2 linked regions of the Homo sapiens genome follow. The protein of the gene in region 2 purifies or fractionates together with the protein of the main gene of each other region. This does not show direct contact. Each region holds a gene or a part of one and is shown on either strand. Other genes may lie near its edges.

The links. The genes of interacting proteins can lie anywhere in the genome.
Region 1: the proteins of C14orf39 (region 2) and PSMA8 purify together in Homo sapiens (affinity purification with western blotting, with the first as the bait; one study listed by BioGRID). This does not show direct contact.

Annotation. Positions count from the first base shown.
Region 1 is NC_000018.10:26,189,254-26,192,907, reverse strand, and holds part of PSMA8 (proteasome subunit alpha-type 8), read right to left. Parts: intron 590-3,654; coding exon 497-589; 3' UTR 1-496. UniProt on the Homo sapiens protein: Component of the spermatoproteasome, a proteasome specifically found in testis that promotes acetylation-dependent degradation of histones, thereby participating actively to the exchange of histones during spermatogenesis.
Region 2 is NC_000014.9:60,476,028-60,479,681, reverse strand, and holds part of C14orf39 (protein SIX6OS1), read left to right. Parts: intron 1-1,292; coding exon 1,293-1,382; exon of another isoform or gene 1,383-1,387; intron 1,388-3,654. UniProt on the Homo sapiens protein: Meiotic protein that localizes to the central element of the synaptonemal complex and is required for chromosome synapsis during meiotic recombination. Required for the appropriate processing of intermediate recombination nodules before crossover formation.

The DNA.
Region 1 (3,654 bases), on a different chromosome or scaffold from region 2:
CAAAATATTGTAAAATGAAGAAGGCTCTGACAAAATTTTAAGAACTCATCAGTATAAGGATGCTTTTGTCATTCTTTGAGAAATGCAGCTCAATATTATATTTAGTTTATTTGGAATAGCTATGTCCTTAACTGACAGTCAATATTCAAACATCACCAAATTATTAAATTTTTTTAATTAAAAAATTTTTTAAAATTATATTTGCATATATGAAGGTAAGTAAGACACTGGACAAATTATAGAGTCTCAGGCTTATGTGGAATTATGACTGCTCTCAACAATTACTGAAATCCCCTTTCAAAGAAAATCTTCACATAAACCTATGTTTGACTATGTAATAGAATGAAGACAGCCACAGATCTGGCATTCTCAAAACATCACACAAGTACTGCATGTAATGCTGCAAAATAACTGTTTTCCTCTAAAATTTCACTAAACAACCTCAGGCAGTACAATAAAACAAAACATTAAGACCTCCCAGTGGTCATCCTAAGAATTAGACAGATTTCTTTGATTTTTTCTTCTCTGCTTCTTCCTTTTCCTTTTCTATTTCAGTTACATATAATTCAACTTCTTTTGCACTAAACATCTGAAAAGAGAAAAAAATTTAAAGATCAAATGTCAGTTATACGAATAATATGTAAATACAATATGAAGAATTCCAATATTTAATAAATTTATACTTTCTATGTACAACTTTATATTTTGTAACTTCAAATATACAATGAAGCATTTCAAGAGGTCTAAGAGCAATAACAATTATGGGCAAAACCAGATCTCTGACATTTCTACTATCACTGTGCTAAAAAAGAAAGCAGGACAAAAGGTGATATTGCGTTATATATCCTATATGTGCATATAACTCCAAAAACATTTTAATGCGAGGCTTAATTTTATTCATGAACAAAGACTCATTATTTAACTCTCCCAACTGCACCCTACTGTGTGATTCTCTGATAGGGTTTAATAATTTGATCAGTTTATAGAATAGCGAAATGAAATGGGAAAAGATAATTTATGCTACTTTATGTCTAAGTAGAAAGCAAAAAAGGTTTTATTTTTCTAAGAATTTGCAGTGTAGTTTGATTTTCTGTTGTACTGTTCACAAGTAGATCCAAGGTTACATGCTTGCGGCTATAAGACAGCAATTATTGGCCAAACCTGGTGACTCAGGCCTGTAATCCCAGCACTTTGGGAGGCCGAGGTGGGTGGATCAGTTGAGGTCAGGGGTTCGAGACCAGGCTGCCATTTTCTTTTTCTTTTTTTTTCAGACAGGGTCTCACCCTGTCGCCCAGGCTGGACTGCAGTGATGTGATTGCAACCTCTGCTGCCGGGTTCAAGCGATTCTCCCACCTCAGTCTCCTCAGTAGCTGGGACTACAGGTGTGTGCTACCACGCCTGACTGATTTTTGTTATTTTTAGTAGAGAGATTTGCATTTTCAGTACAGACAGGGTTTTGCCATGTTGGCCAGGCTGGTCTTGAACTCCTGACCTCAAGTGATCTGCCCGCCTCAGCCTCCCAAAGTGCTGGGATTACAGGCCTGAGCCACCGTGCCTGGCCAAGACAGCAATTATTAACTTCAGTGAAGTTAATACATTTATATACAAAAATCTAAATATAATGATCTTAATACTGAAAAGAGGTATCTATTAAATTGATAAATGAATGATCAACTTTATGGAAAGGCAAATTTTCAAAGATATTAGAGATGTAAAGGATTTTAGCTATTAGTCCATCACTAGAATTTACATATAAGAAAACATAGATTCACAAAGCTAAATTATATTTGGCCAAAGATTAAAGAAGGATTAAAGATTAGGTCTCTGATTCTTATTTCAACTCCAGAACTCTTTCCATTTCACCTATAAAGATGTGTGTCACAAAATCTGTATTTGTCAATAATCTACATAAAATATATTATTTGAACGTTTTATGAAATGAATTTACCCATCAAGCAATTACTAGGAGTTCCATGGGCTCTGAAAGTGGAAGAATATAATTCTTACCTGCTATTAAGGAGTCCACAGTTTAGTGGAAAAAAACTGGCATATAAATAGATCATTACAATACAAACCTGAATAAAGTGATGTGGTATTACTTGGGGAAGAAATAATTTCCTCCTTTGAAAAAGTGTCTTTCACTTTCTTTTTCCTTTTTGAGACCGGGTCTTGCTCTGCTGCCTACAGCTGAAGCACAGCGGCATGATCACAGCTCACTGCAACCTCTGCCTCCTGGGCTCAAGCCATCCTACCGCCTCAGCAACCGGAGTAGCTGGGGCTACAGATGTGAACCACCATGCCCAGCTAACTTTTGTATTTTTTGTAGAGACGGGGTTTCGCCATGTTGCCCAGGCTGGTCTCAAACTCCTGGGCTCAATCGATTTGCCTGTCTCGGCCTCCCAAAATGCTGGGATTACAGGCATGAGCCACTGCGCCCAGCCTCAAGAAGCCTTTTCAAAAAATTATTTTTAATTTTTATGAGTACATAGTAGGTATATATATTATGGGGTACATGAGATATTTTGATACAGGCATGTGATGCATAATAACCACATCATGGAGAATGGGGTATCCATCCCCTCAAGCATTTATCCTTTGTGTTACAAAAAATCCAATTATACTCTTTTAGTTATCTTAAAATGTACAATTAAATTGTTATTGACTATAGTTACCCTGTTGTGTTATCAAATACTAGGTCTTATAAATTCTATTTTTTTGTACCTATTAACCATCCCCACCTGCCCCTGCCCCCCACTACCCTTCCCAGCCTCTAGTAACCATCCTTCTACTCTGTATCTCCATGAGTTCAATTGTTTTGATTTTTAGATTCCACAAATGAGTAAAAACATGCAATGTCTGTCTTTCCATGCCTGCCTTATTTAACATAATGATCTCCAGTTCCATCCATGTTATTACAAATGACAGTATCTCATTATTTTTTTGGGGGCAGAACAGTACTTCATTGTGTGTAAGTATCACATTGTCTTCGTACATTCATCTGTTGATGGACCCTAAGGTTGCTTCCAAATCTTGGCTATTGTGAACAGTTCTGCAATTAACATGGGAGTGCAGCTATTTCTTCAATATACTGATTTCCTTTCTTTTGGGTATACACCCAGTAGTGGGATTGCTGGACCATATGTACTTTTATTTTATGTTTTTTGAGGAATCTCCAAACTATTCTTCATGGTGGTTGTACTAATTTACATTCCCACCAACAGTGTATGAGGGTTCCCTTTTCTCCATATCCTCACCAGCATTTGCTGTAGCTTGTCTATTAGATATAAGCCATTTTAACTGGGGTGAGATGATATTTTATTGTAGTTTTGATTTGCATTTCTCTGATGATCAATGATGTTGATCACCTTTTTTTTGGAGATGGGGTCTTGCTCTGTTGCCCAGGATGGAGTACAGTGGCACAATCATGGCTCACTGCAGCCTTGACCTCCCAGGTTCAAGTGATCCTCCCACCTCAGCTTCCCAAGTAGCTGGGACCACAGGAGCACACCACCACATCAGGCTAATTTTTAAATTATTATATTTGTAGAGACAAGGTCTCACTGTGTTGTCCAGGCTGGTCTGAAACTCCTAGGCTCAAGTGATCCTCCCGCCTTGGCCTCCCAAAGTGCTGGGATTACAAGCAAGAGCTCAGCC
Region 2 (3,654 bases):
ATAATATTAAGCTAATTTAGTAATTGTATATTTATATATAATTACAAAAAGTCTAGAAGGATGTACATCAAAAGGCTTATAGTGAATGCCTTCTCAATGAACATGTATGTTTTATGGAATTTTAAAATAATTCCAATTTTTATTTTAGATTCAGGGGCACTTGTGCAAGTTTATGAGATAGTTATATTGTGTAATGCAGAGGTTTGGGGTACAACTGATCCCATCACCCAGGTAGCGAGAGCATAGTACTCAATAGTTTTTCACCTCTTCCCCCTCTACTAGTTTCCAGTGTCTACTGTTGCTATCTTTATGACCATGAGTATTTATGACATTTAAAAATATTGAGAATATATGTATGTATAATTTTTGATCTTCTAATTTCATTTTGGAGAATATTTTCTAAGGAAATGATCAGAAATTCAGATATATTTAAGTACAAGTTCTGTTACTAAGTGATAAAGGAGGATAAGCTCTCAATGATGTTAAAATGTATAATTATAGTAACATCTGGAAACAATTTATTAAAACAATAATAGTCATTATTCAATATTGAGAATATGATTAATAGTTATTTTCTTACACATACTTTTCTGTGCTTCCAAATTGGGCATGTATACTTTTTGAATCTGAAAAAAAAGTTAGAAAAAAGGCAATATTTGAAAAATACTTACACTGGAAGCCGCCATGGTATATATTAATTTTATATTTTTTTGTATTGGTAATATTCTTTCAAGTTACATAATAAAAAATGTATAAGATGAATATTTGTTATATTCCTATTGTCTGATTTTGTAATTCATTTGCTCTGGTTTCTCTTTTTTTTGTAATTCAGGATGATGTGACACCTGTTTTCTAAGTGTTAAAGGAGCAAAAAAACCTCTCTTTAGCCCTTATTCTAGTTCTTTGAATGCTTACTCCAAAAGAATTTTTTTGACCAAAATCTTAGAAATGTAATGAGAAAGAAAGGCTGATATTGGAGTGTTACAGAGTGTATAATAGAAATGCAATAGCAATACACAATCCAGCCATGTCACATTTGCTCCTTCCCTAGTAATGGTTCAAAAACAAGTTTAATATAAAAATTCATGAATATTGATATTCGAGCATAATAGTCCTTGAATGGAGGTAGTGGGAGTGATATGAGATGGAAATACTTTTCTTGATGTAAGCTTGTTTTCTCCAGGAAGAGAAAGATTCGTTTCTCTTTAAATAATTATGTTCTTTTTTTTATTATCTCTATCAATTTGTTTATCATTCTGAGTTGCTAATTACAAATATATTTTTTTCTATAGCTGGAAGCCAACATGTGATGTTTTTCGTAAACATGAAGATTATATGCAGGACCAATTTACTGTTTATCAAGGAACTGTTGAAAAAGACAAGTATAGTACTTATATGAAGTTTATCAATTCTATAAGTTTGTATTATTAGGACATGGTGTGTAAGAATGTCAGTTGAAAAATGTAGACATTTTGTACTCAAGGAGTTTCTTTTTTTTTTTTTGAGATGGAGTCTCGCTCTGTCCCCCAGGCTGGAGTGCAGTGGCATGATCTTGGCTCACTGCAAGCTCTGCCTCCCGGGTTCACGCCATTCTTTTGCCTCAGCCTCCCAAGTAGCTGGGACTACAGGCGCCCGCCACCGCACCCGGCTAATTTTGTGTATTTTTAGTAGAGACGGGGTTTCACCATGTTAGCCAGGATGGTCTCGATCTCCTGACCTCGTGATCTGCCCGCCTCGGCCTTCCAAAGTGCTGGGATTACAGGCATGACCCACCATGCCCAGCCAGGAGTTTTTGTTTTTAAGTAAATGTAGTGTTTTGGACTCCTTGGGTGCAGTGGAACATCTACCTACTTGTTGTAAAGCTCTCTCTAATCCTAGATATATTTAGATATGGCCTTAGATATAAACTGTTTCTCAGTGGCAATTATTATAGCAGAGTCCATCAATTAATGGTCTTTATGAGTGAACTGTTTAGGCAAACATCTCGGGGAATAGTTACCTGTAGAATTAGCTTATAACAAATTTGGGATATTGATTTCTGAATGGTATTTTATATCAAACTTCTGTTTTTTAGACAGCTGATTTAATGGAGTGGTTATATTCTAATAGAGAAACACCAATAATTGTATGAATTTATTTTATTATATGTATAATCACATTGTCTTGGGGATTAAATATAATTAGTGAATGTAATGAAACAAGACAAGAGACTTTGAACACATTATATAGCATAAAAATTTCACCTAATATAAGACATTGAAATGTTTTTATTTTTAATATAATTGGATGAGAACAGTATCTATTTTTATATTGTAACTAAAACGTGCAAAATCTAGAATGCAATACTCTATATATTCAAAGACAAGTCTTAAGAAAAGGTAGGGACTAAAGTTATAGATATAGACTTCATTTTGAAATCATGGAAATACATGAGATTGCCCATGGAAATGTATGGAGCAAAAAGAGGAGAAAGCTGGAGTACGCCATCATCTAGAGGGTAGGCAGAGGGTGGGATCAGTGAAGGAGACTTGTCTTGTCATTTATACATCCTGCTTCATTTAAAAAAGAATTTTAGATGATTTGACTAAATAATCATCTTGAAAGGATAGTGTTTAAAGAAACTAGATTAAAAATCAAGGCTGCAGGGAAGTAAGGAAAATATAGGAAGTTGAAGCCTTTGATGAAGTTAGAAATTCATACTATGTATCCCGCACATTTGTTAGATATAGGCACGAATTAAGCTTTCAAATTCCTAGTAGTCAAGGCATTGTGGAAATATAATCAGTGTGGGATTCATAATATTCATTTAAAAAAACAGGTCAATTGCTTAGGATAAGTAGAGGCTTTTCCTGAGGTTTGAGAGAAATTTCTCCTCTGGGTCCTCTAAAGGGGAAATTGTGCAGTGTGCTTCAGTGACCTCCCCCAGCCCCAAACACAGTATATATAACTGCTTCTTATAGCATCTGTCAATGTAAGTCATGACTATAAAACATTAATTCTTAAAAATGATTCTGTGAGAGGCTAAAGCAAACCAGTTAAAATATGTACTTCTCTAACAGTGTTTGTTATAGAGGACTTCTGTGAGCTAACTGAAGGTATTAAAGTGAAAACAGTTGTCTGTTTCTTTCTTAAACCAGCTACATAGCTTAATTGAATTGATGCTTCAATACCAGGCATTTATAAATGGAAAATAACTCATTTGTTGGTTTCATGGATAATGGAGGAAGTAGAGGCACCAATTACTTGTTTCTCCTAATCTCCCATCCCTGTTCAAGTCATTCATGAAAAACAGTATTGCTGGCTTAGATGAGATAATAATGGCTCTTGTTTAACTATGACTTAGCTATGCTAGGCTCTGCCAGAGTTTCTATATGGAGTATGTTAGAAGAGTGAGCATGAATATACAGTATGAATAGGGTGGATGTGGCATAGTCATCTCACCTGGAACTGGTGACCCAGGCTTAATTTTCTTATAGGTATTTCTTCCCTGGACCATTTTTCCCAAGCGATTAAATAGTAAGTGGGTCTTAATTAGCAAATATGCGTTTAGAGGAATAGGAGCTTGTTTGGGGCTCAACTGCTTTTCCTTGCTAAAGGGGACAGTTTAGTAATATTCAGAAATTAAAACTTTCTTAAGATTCAGACCCGCTGACT